2 separate regions of the Homo sapiens genome follow, and region 1 is linked to region 2. Evidence: fine-mapped expression QTL. A gene starts in region 2. The other region holds a variant in brackets. All regions are shown on one strand. Distances are from middle to middle. Region 1 overlaps DOK7 (docking protein 7). Region 2 holds the start of DOK7 (docking protein 7).

What was found.
Region 1: its variant is fine-mapped to the expression of DOK7 in whole blood (TOPMed, PIP above 0.99). The same link has a PIP of 0.9 or more in blood mononuclear cells.

Annotation. Positions count from the first base shown.
Region 1 is chr4:3,485,450-3,490,662 of GRCh38, forward strand. DOK7 (docking protein 7) reads left to right here. Exons shown (of 7, transcript NM_173660.5): 5 at 90-209; 6 at 4,228-4,347. Among named protein-coding and RNA genes, the nearest start is that of DOK7, 25 kb to the left of the region's middle. RefSeq lists enhancers at 1-138, 140-1,106 and a silencer at 4,263-4,372. The variant C/T (reference allele first, on the strand shown) is at 2,699.
Region 2 is chr4:3,460,818-3,466,034 of GRCh38, forward strand. It overlaps DOK7 (docking protein 7), which reads left to right and starts at 2,489. Exons shown (of 7, transcript NM_173660.5): 1 at 2,489-2,612; 2 at 2,689-2,734. The coding sequence starts at 2,559. RefSeq lists enhancers at 1,267-2,114, 5,032-5,217.

The DNA of each region.
Region 1 (5,213 bases), 25 kb after region 2:
AGTTTGCTGCGGTTTCCTGTGTTCCTCCTCTTCAGGGTCCCCAGCCCGCCCTCGGGCCAGACTGACCTGTCTCTGTCCTTCCTCTGCAGGGGCTGGCGTCTTCTTCCTGTCCTCGGCCGAGGGGGAGCAGATCAGCTTCCTGTTCGACTGCATCGTCCGAGGCATCTCCCCCACCAAGGGCCCCTTTGGGCTGCGGCCGGTTCTACCAGGTGCGTGTGGGAGCCTGGCCGGCCGGGGAGGGTGCGCTCGGCAGGCTGTGCGACGTCCCGGGGCGGGGGGCCACAGTGATTTGTCAGCCCCAGTTAGATGGCCAGCCTCCCCACCCCCAGCTAAGGAACCAGAACCTTTCCAGGCCAGGATTGCAGCCTGGGCTTCTGCAAGCCCTGCTGAGGGATTCAGAGCAGCGGGGGCTGGGCTCGTACCTGCAGGTGCTCTCCCTCGGGGGTCCGAGCTGTTGGAACGCTTGGCCCTAGAGCTTTCTGGCTGGGACAGTCAGCCACAGCTGCCACTGTGCAGTAAGAGACCCTCTGACCCACCACCACCATCTTCCACGCCCAGGAGCAGGGAAGGCCTTGCCCGAGCTCGGTGGCCCGGGGGCAGCTGGTCTGACTCTGCAGCTGGGGTCGGGACTGGCTCTGCCTGAGCCCGGTGTTTAGGCCCAAGGCCACCTCGGGAGGTCCCCTGGCTGTGGGGTCTCAGGACACGTTGGGCTGAGGGGGTCTCGTCTTGTCTCACCCACACTTCCTTGGCTGTGGCTGCGGCACTCTCTGCAGGAGTCCTTGGCCAGGGATGTTGCTGGACCCCAGAGGGGCTCTGGTGCCTGGGCACGGTGGGGCTCCCCAGGTCGGGGCGGGTGCTGGGCCAGGTGCCTCCATGGGCTCTCTCAAATGCTCCTCTTGCTCCACGAGGGCAGCGCTTGACCCAACGTCCAAGTGAGGCCAAGGCCTAGGCCATGTGGCGGGTGAGCAGCAAGCTCACATGTGGCGCCTCCTGGCACTGGCACCCCCGCCGTGGTGTGGCGGGGAAGGGTGACTGGGAGGGCAGAGGCGAGCAGCATGTGGGGTGGGACCTGGGCCTCCCTTCTCCTGGCCACAGCCCCCAATGCCCCCTGCCCACACCAGCAAAGTCCCGTTGGGGGCAGCCCTGGGAGTGGGGAGGTGGCACCTATGGCCAGCGCCCTCCCCGCTGCCCTGCCATGCTGGATGGTGCAGCTGCACCCCTGTAGGTGTCTTCCTGCCTAGTGGATGCACCCCTGCAGGTGTCTTCCTGCCTAGTGGATGCACCCCTGCAGGTGTCTTCCTGCCTAGCGGCTGCAGGCAGGTGTGGATGGTGTGGTCAGCGTGGATGATGTGGTCGGTGTGTTTGGCTGTGCAAGGCGAGGGTGTGCAGAGTGCAGGGCGGGGACAGGGCCGGGCAGGGGCAGCAGGAGGCTGAGCAGGGCTCCCTGCTCTCTCCTGCTCCCCTCAGGCAGTTCCCGGGGAGCAGAGGGAAGCAGGGAAGCAGTACTGGGCAGAGGATGCCAGGGAGGGTTTGCCTGGGACAGCCACTAGATGGGACAGGCTCCACCGCAGGCAGCACGTGGGCCAGCCCCAGGCGGGGCCATTGCTGACAGCTGGAGGGGGTTGGGCTGACCAGAAGTCCCAGACCCCACTCCACAGGACATCTTTGTCAGAGTCAGCTGGGAGCTCTCAGAAAGCTCTGTTGTCAGGGCCTCGGCCTGCAGCTGTGCCCCCAAGCTGTGCCTCTGCAGGTGTGTGGGGGCCTCAGGCCACCCGGAGGTGGGTTGAGCTGGGACACTATGCTGGGCAGCACCCCACCAGAGAAGCCGTGGGCCCAGCCCCCGCAGGCTGGACTTACTGGAGGGTCTGGGCTGATGGGTTCGTCTGCCTGTGCTGGCAGCACACTGGAGCCCCGTGATCACAGGACTCCCACAATAGAGCCCTGCGGGCGGCATCCTCAAGCTCTGGGCTTTCTGCCGTCCTCCTGTGCTGAGCCCGCTGTGACCCACTGGAGGGGCCAAGAGATGCAGGAAGTCCAGCCCCTTGGTCTTCCGCATGTGGACACCGAGTCCCAGAGGCAGCCAGACCCACCAGGAGCAGGAGGGAAGGGCTCAGAGGTCTGGGGTCCACCATGCTCCGAGTATGGCGTGCATGTTACCTTCTTGGCCTGGCCTCCACGGGGGTGCACCGTTGCTGCACCCCATTTTGCAGACGAGGGTGAGAGGCTCAGGGGGCGTGTGGTGGAGCTGGGAGTCGATCCGTGTCTTGCTGGCCCACCAGTTACTGGACGGGAAATGGTGGGAGGTTGTGTCCTGCATCCTGACCCTGGTGTCACCGAGGGGCCACTCTCCGTCCCACCTGTGGGGCATTGGCTTTGAGGGTGGCCCTGGTCGGAATGTCCCAGGGCTGAGGGGCAGTTGTGCTGTCCTGTCACTGTGCTTGTCTTCAGCCTGGACCCTCAGTGCACCAAGGAGCCAGGACTGGTGCCTGCTGTCCTGCCCACGTGGCTGAATGTGTCTGTGAAAGTGCCAGGAGCTGCTAAGCCGTGTGGCCTGTGGGCTCCATGGCCACCAGCAGGCCGTGTCGGGAGGGACTGATGCCTGAGCTGGCACAGCCTTGGCTGCCATCGCCTTCCACCCTCCCAGGCACAGGCAGGGAGGGGACAGGAGAGAGGCTTGTGCCACCCCCATCCCTGTCCC[C/T]GGCAATGCTACAGACAGGGCCACAGGGTCTTGGGCTGGCAGGGCCCCAGGCTGACCGGGGCAGTGCCTTGGGGTGGCCATACCCAGAGGTGGGGGAGGCTCCTCCAGGCCCTTCTTGTGTTCCTGGGCCCGGTGCTGTGAGCTCTCACCTGCCCGTGGGGAGGGCCCTGTTCTGAGGTCCTGATGGGGTCTCCTGTAGTGAGCAAGGGCCCCAGCTGGGCACCTGTGTGGGCTGAAGGCATCAGCAGAGGACAGTGTCCTATCAGGGACAGGGCCTCTTCAGCCTAGATGTGAACCTGGACAGGGACACCATTGCTTTCTCTGTTTGTTTCTCCGGAGCGCTGACCATGGGGTCGGGACGTCTGGCTCCAGCCTCCGCCAGGCTGGGTTCTGTCCGCTGAGGCTCTGATCTAGGTGTCCCAGGCTGGGGACTGTACCTTCTGGTCCTCTGTGCGCTGCAGAATTTGGTGTAAACTTTTCATGCTGCCACTGCTCCTGGACTTTGGGGAGAGCAGGTCCTTGGACCTGTTTCGGCTCAGTCCTGCAGGTGCCCCCAAGGTGGGTGTCAGGAGGTGTGTTCTGGAGGCCCAGAGGAGGCCACTTGGAGCAGGACGGGGTCGGTTTGCTCTTGCGGGTGTGGCTGTGGCTTCCCTGCCAGGGAAACTCTTTGGGATGGCTGTGGCCGTGGGTGCTGTGGATGTGGAAGGGGCAGGGTCTTGAGCCCTGCTGTTTGGAGCAAGGTAGCCACTTGGCCCAGTGTTCACATCACTTAGTGCCTGGGACATCCCAGCATGGGCGGGGGCTTGGGGACCAGGGCAGTGATGCTGAGGCTCGCAGCAGCGGTGCTGAGGGGCCAGTGAGAGGTCCCACCCTGCCTGGGCAGGAAGGGGAGGTTTCCTGCCACTCAGTCGCAGAGGACACATGGACGATGAATAGAGAAGGCGAGGCTGGTGCTCCCTGGATGCAGCCCTGAGGGGAGGGGCTAGGTGGGGCCGAGGGTCCGCAGACCACCATGCTCTGAGCCTTGGGCACAGTATGAGTCTCCATCCGAGACCCCAGGGAACGGTGGGGACACTGCAAGGTGGGCGGGCATTTCCCCAGGTGGAGGGGAGCCTGTGAGAAATGGGCACCGTGAATGAGGGGCAGGCAGCCCCTCTTGCAGCGAGGCCGGCCCTGGGGATGGGGGAGGGGCTGGTCATTTTTTGGAACAGAAAATTGAAAAACTCGGTGGTGAGGAAGATGAGGAAGGAGGGGTCTGGCCGGCGTGGGGTCCTGGTGAGTGGGCAGGTGGCAGGGCCATCCACGGGCACAGGGACCCAGCTGGGCGCATGGTGGCCTGGATAGGGGTGGTGTGGGTGTCTGCGTTTGAGGGCCAGCCTCTGGGATGAGGCATCGGGAGGAGCGGGGACTCCCAGGGGACTGCCACTCCACAGAGGGGGATAACCACTGAGTCAGGCTGGGCCTGGTGCCTGCGGGCGAGGGTGGGCGGTGGTGGCCACCTCCTCCACCGAGTCTTCTCTCTGCCACAGACCCAAGTCCCCCGGGACCCTCGACTGTGGAGGAGCGTGTGGCCCAGGAAGCCCTGGAAACCCTACAGCTGGAGAAGCGGCTGAGCCTCCTCTCACATGCGGGCAGGCCGGGCAGTGGAGGTAGGGCCGGGGGCTGACCTGGGCTGTGGGACCTCGGCTAAGCCTCCAGCAGGAGAGCTCAGGAGGCATCCATGCATGTGTGGGGGCTGCAGGCTCCCTCTGCTCATTCATTCATTCCTTCTGTCTCCTGCTCATTCATTCTTCCCCCAACTCCCCGCCCCGCCCGCTACTCATTCATCCTTCCTTCCCCACCACCCTGCTCATTCCTTCCTTCTCCTCCTGCTCATTCATTCCTTCCTTCTTCCTCCTACTCATTAATTCCTTCCTCCCCCCATTCCTTTCTTCACCCCCTCATTCATTCCTTTCTTCACCCCCATTCATTCCTTTTCTCCCTGCTCATTCATTCCTTCCTTCCCCACCCTGCTCATTCATTTCTTCCTCCGCCCCCCCCACTCATTCCTTCCCCCCTCATTCATTCCTGTCTTCACCCCCTCATTCATTCCTTCCTTTTCTCCCTGCTCATTCATTCCTTCCTTCCCCACCTTGCTCATTCATTTCTTCCTCCGCCCCCCCGGCTCATTCTTGCCTTACCTCCATTCATTCCTTCCTTTTCCCCACACTCATTCATTCCTTCCTTCCCCCCACCCCCTGCTCATTCAGTCCTTCTTTCACCCCCCCCACCGCCCCGCTCATTCATTCCTTCATTTCTCTCCTGCTCATTCATTCCTTTCTTCTCCCTCTGCTCATTCATTCCTTCCTTTTCCCCCTGCTCATTCTTTCCTTCACCCCCCCGCTCATTCGTTCCTTCCTTCTCCCCCTGCTCATTCGTTTTTTCCTTCTCTCTCTGCTCATTCCTTCATTTCTTCTCTCCCTGCTCGTTCATTCCTTCCCTCTCCGCCTGCTCGTTCATTTCCCTCCTGCTCATT
Region 2 (5,217 bases):
TTCTCTCCCACACACCAGGCCACTTGGAGATGCAAGACAAAGCAGCCCACCCCTGGTCCCCATCATCCCCTTGGAATCACCTTGGAAAACCCTGGATCATTTTGAAAGATGCTCATGGACGCCATCTCATTGGGGCTCATCACAGTATCAAGGTAGAAGAGGAAGCTGAGACCAGTAAGATCACATGGTGGCTGAAGGTGGTGTGGCTAGTCAGGGACAGGTCCCTTGGCCACAGAGCCACTGGCGGGTGGCAATGTGCCACGACCATGGGGTCTGGCAGAGATGGCAGTGTCCCTGGCCACAGTGTCCAGCAGCAGCATGGCAGCCGCAGCAGGGCTCTGTGGTCAGACAGGGGTGCTGCTGTGACCTGAGACTGTGGGCTCCTTTGAAGGTGGTGACCCTGCCCCTCGTGTGGAGCCCAGCTGTGCTGTGGGGCTGAGCTGTGGTGTCCTCCTCTTTCAGGATGTGGCTCTGTTTTCACTGCCTACCAGCTCTCCAGCCTTCCCCTTGGTTCTTGGAGACCTGATTTGCTTCCAATCAACCCCTTCCTACTCAGTGGCCAGCCTATTTCTCCATTTGCAACCAGCAACCCTGGCTATAACTTCTGGGGAAACTTCTGGCTATAACTTCTGAGGCACGGAGCGGGGCAGGAGCTTGCCCAGGGTCACAGCGCTCTCGGCCAGTCTGGGAGTGGCAGCCAGGCCACCTCCTCCTCCTGCAGGAAGCTTCCTCCACCTTTCAGCAGCCCTGGAGCCGCATGGAGCAGGGAAGGGAGTTGTCTACCCTCCGGCATCCTGTGTGTTCCAGGCTGTGTGGGAGCAGGTGCAGCTGCCAGGCATGGCAGGAGCCTGGGCCCGGGCCAGCACTCAGGAATGCAGCAGGGCCCTGCCTCTCCCTGTAGGGATAAGCAAGTGCCAGGCGCCCAGGGCAGCGGATGTGTCTGTGGCTACAGCCCCAACGGCCCCCGCCTCCGCACCGGCTGTCCTGGGCCAGCCCCTTGGGGGCCTGGGATGTGTGGGGAGCATGAATGGGGCTCTGTGACCCAGCAACTGTTCTGCGGAAGGCGGCTGGTGGCTGCACAGGTGACTGCGGGGGTGGGTGGGGGATGCAAAATTCTGCTTCCTGGGCCTGGTGTCCCCCGCCTTGCATGAGGCCCTGACAAGACATCACCGAAGCACCAAAGCCAACCCTTGTGGCCCACCGGAGACCTGTCTCTTGGATCACAGGGGCAGTGGGGAGGGGCGCCCAGGGCTCCCGATGCCTCTGAGCCCTGCTCTGAGGTCAGCCGATGTGGCTCAGTCCTGGCTGTGAGGCCTCACGCTGCCCTGATTCCATTTGCTCCTCAGTGCGAGGCAGACAGAGCCCAGCCTAGGGTCTGGATGGGATGAAATGAAGACGTCTCCTCCCTAACGGGACACTGTCTACCCCTTCCTTCTTCTCCCCCGAGAACCGTCAGCCCCGTGAGGATGGGGTCTAGGGTAGGGCATGTGGACGGAGCTTTGCTGTTTGTCCAGGTGCTTATCTTCTAGGGTGCCATCGCCCCTCCCCACTGCTGTTCCCGTATCTGCTGGGTGTCCCCAACCCCAGGGTGGTGGAGGCCGTCTCTCGGATGGGGCTGACACCCAAGGCACGGACCTGCCAGGTCCCCCAAAGCACATGGCCTCTCTGCAGAAGAACCTGGATGTGACATCTAATGCCCAGGCCAGAGCTTGGGGACAGCTGGACTGGAGCCACAGGGTCAAGGAGGGGGAGTCCAGAAGCGCAAAGTCCACCCAGCTGGGAGGGCTGCTGGCAGGTCCTTTACAAAGCAGGCAGCTCCTCTGCCCATCGGAGCCGGCTGGCCTAACCAGGGCCTGCTCTTGCCTGGGATGGGGGCAGAAGAGGTGGAGACCTGGGGCCCTGAGGCGGCACTGTGGGTCCTGGACCCGCCCACCTGCACTGGGGTCCCTGCAGGCTTTTAATGGGAACAGAAATGGAGGAAGAGACAGAGGCTGCCAGGGGCTCCCCGACCCCTACTGCCTGCCTGGGGAGGGGTCACCTCAGTGTGGGGGAAGCCTGGGGATGTGAGAGCATCCTAGGCCTGGGCTGCCTGTGGCCAGTCTGTTGTCCGGGTGTCTAGTGACCCCTGGGGTAGGGGCAGATGCCAGTCTGGGAAGCCGGATTGTTTGAAGACCAACTTTAAAGTTGGGAGCAGTGCCCAGAGCGGGGCCGATGTCTGCTAGGTGGTTGTCTCTGCTTTTTGAAAAAGAAGTCCCCGCCCGACCCCCGCCCCGCCAGGCGCTGGTCTGAGCGTCTGAGCCCAGATGGTGCGCTTGCTCCAGAGGGCGGGCGGCTCCAGTGGCCGCCGCGGGACGGTGGGGCCAGAGGGGCCCGTGGGGGTGGGGGAGCCGCCCGCAGGAGAAGGAGCCCCGCCCGCGCCGGCCCTGGAGTCGCCGGTGTCGCCGCCCTGCCCGCGGGCCCGCCCTCCTGGCCCAGCCCAGGGCCCTGCGAGCTATTTTGAAAGTGACCCTGGGCTGGGGCGCCGGGGCGAGCGCGGCGGCGCGGAACCATGACAGAAGATGACCGAGGCGGCGCTGGTGGAGGGCCAGGTCAAGCTGCGGGACGGCAAGAAGGTCGGGGCGCGTCGGGGGCGCGGGGGGGGGGGGCGCGGGCGCGGGCGGCGGCTCACGCTCCCCCCTGTCCCCGCAGTGGAAGAGTAGGTGGCTGGTGCTGCGGAAGCCGTCGCCCGTGGCAGGTGAGCGGGGCGGGCGGGGGACGGGGGGCGCGGGGGTAGCGACACGGGTTACCGAGGCCCGGGGCAGTAATGCCAGCTTGCCCAAAATCGCCGCCGCTGTCACCCCGCCGGGAAACCCGAGAGCCCCGTGCGGACCCGGACCCCCCGGCGCCCCTGGGAGCGCAGGTGGGGGCCCTGGACGGAAGAACCCTCTTTCCAGCAGGGCAGACTGAGGCCCGAGGGGCTGCCTGGTGGCCCTGTAGGCGGAGGGGACGCAGGCCCTGAGCCCCCCAGCAGAGCAGCAAGGGGCCCCCCAGAAGCAAAGCCCCACATACCTGAGGGTTGAGCTGTGCTTGTGGAAACGCTCAGAGCAGGGCCCCCGAACCCAGCCTCCAGGGGTGCTGCGTGGGTTAGCGCTGACCCTGGACCCCTCCCAGGCAGACGAGAGGCTGGGCTGCGGTAGGGCAGGGCAGAGTGACTGCCACATTGCTGGGGGAACAGTCCTCTGGGAGGAGGCAGGGGTCCCCCCCCAGTCCCCGCCCTGAGCCAGCACCCCAGCTTGGGGAGGGTCAGCATGGAGCCCCCAGGTCTGGCAGCCCAGGCCGCCTGCAGCGCTGGGCCTGTAGGGAGGGCTGAGCCGGGCCTGCAGCTGCTCCAGAGGACAGGTGCGGCAGAGCCGGCCAGGCCCGGGTCTGGGTGGGATGCTCGGCCTGTGTGCATGGGGGGCTGTACGCCAGGGGGCTGCCAGAGCACCCTCCAGGACGGGTGTCTGTGACTCCCAGGGAGGGTGTGGGGCAGGGATCCCTCCTGCGTCCCCTCTGCAGGGCCTCAGGTGGTCCTGGAGGAAAGCACTTCCTGCCTGCCTCCGCCTCCCCTTGCAGGGCCTGGACTGCACGCTGGTCACTTCTCCACTCAGCCCTCCGTGCCCAGACCTCCTGCCTGGAGCTGTGGGGGCACCGACAGAGCCTGGGAGGGCGTCTTTGTCCTCCGGGGCTGCAGGGGACCTGGTATAGGAAGGGATGGGGTCTGGGCAGAGTGAGAGGCCCTGCCAGGCTGGGGCGGATGACAGGCTTTAGTCAGCTGTGGCTGGGTCGGGGCCGTGGTGGGGCAGGTGATGCTTGGTGGATGGTGCTGGGCTGGAGCCGGTGCAGACCCTCCAGAGAGGCCGCATCCCAGGAAGGCACCCGGGACAGCAGCCCCCAAAGAGGAGTGTCGGGGGAGAAGTCTTTGTCCCTGTTGGAGGGATTTTCTTTCTGCATCAGACAGTCCCAGGAGGCAGGGCCTGCCAGCCTCAAGAGGGTGTGCTCCCCCGGCCGGTGAGTGCCTGAGTGGAGTGACAGGAGTTTGCAATGGGTCCCCCAGGTGGGACAATCTGTGAGTCTGTAGGTGAACATGGTGGCTCCCGAGCGTCTGCTGGGTTATCCCGTATCCTGCGCAGTTGAGATCTGCAGCCTTCTGGGGCTGGCGTGGGAGGTGATGTGGGGTAGTAGAAGGTGCCATGCCCCCTCTGGGTGGATGTTCATTCCAAGCCTTGAGGCCAGGTGTCCCTAGCACCCACTGACTCACTGGCCTGGGACCCATTGCTTTGGACACCTGCTTTCTGTGTTGGTCACTCCAGCAGCCCAGGGTTGAAACTGACACCCTGTGGGGTTGCCCAGAGGTCGGTCAGATGAGGGGATGGGACAGAGCGGAGTTCTCACGCCCACCTCCCCACCCTGACCAGGCCAGCCTGGCACCTCCTCTCCGCTCAGAGGCCCTGATGCCTCTTCCCCTGGCCCCTCATAAGCCTCCCTAGATGCTGCCCCCTTTGCCTTCACCCAGCTGCCTTCCCGCTCAGCGCTGGAGACCACCTCCCTTGTGGATGGGCCCGGCGTGGAGGGAGCAGGCCCCAGCCCTGGAGGAGCAGACAGCACAGACCCTGCGCTCCTGGTGTGAGGGAGAGAGGAAGGGTCCCGTCTGCTTCCTTGTAAGACAGGCAGGGTTCTTTTTGTTACCAGTGGTGATTTCCTTCTGGGAAGGGCCCCGATGTGCACCTTTTCCACTGGCACCTTTCTCCTCCTTGCGTTTTTCTCAATCGTGAGCACGTCTTTCTGTTATGACAAGGTTTAGCGAATGAAAGGGAAACCCTTTTATCAAAGGGCTGCTCAGCCACAGCGCCTGGCATGGCCAGTGGACGTCGGGCCGTCTGCCTCGGTGTGGGACTGCAGGGTGCCCTGCAGTGGGACCACGTTCCTCAATGTCTCCACCGCGTCCTCACTGCGGAATGCGTGTCTGCGTCCCCTCTCTGGGCAGGGCCCCGGGGGAGGAGGGTGGTCTGTGTCCAGTTGTGGCCCAGGACTCACTGCTGGTGGCCCTGCATGCCAGCGGCGCCTGGCCCAGCCCCTCTCTTCTTCCTCCCAGGTGCGGGGGCTGGGGGTGGTGAGGAAAGTGTTCTTGACATCCTGTGGAGAGTGTGGCCCCAGGCCAGACACTTGAGGGGGCCTGCTTCCCACAGGGGCTGCCCC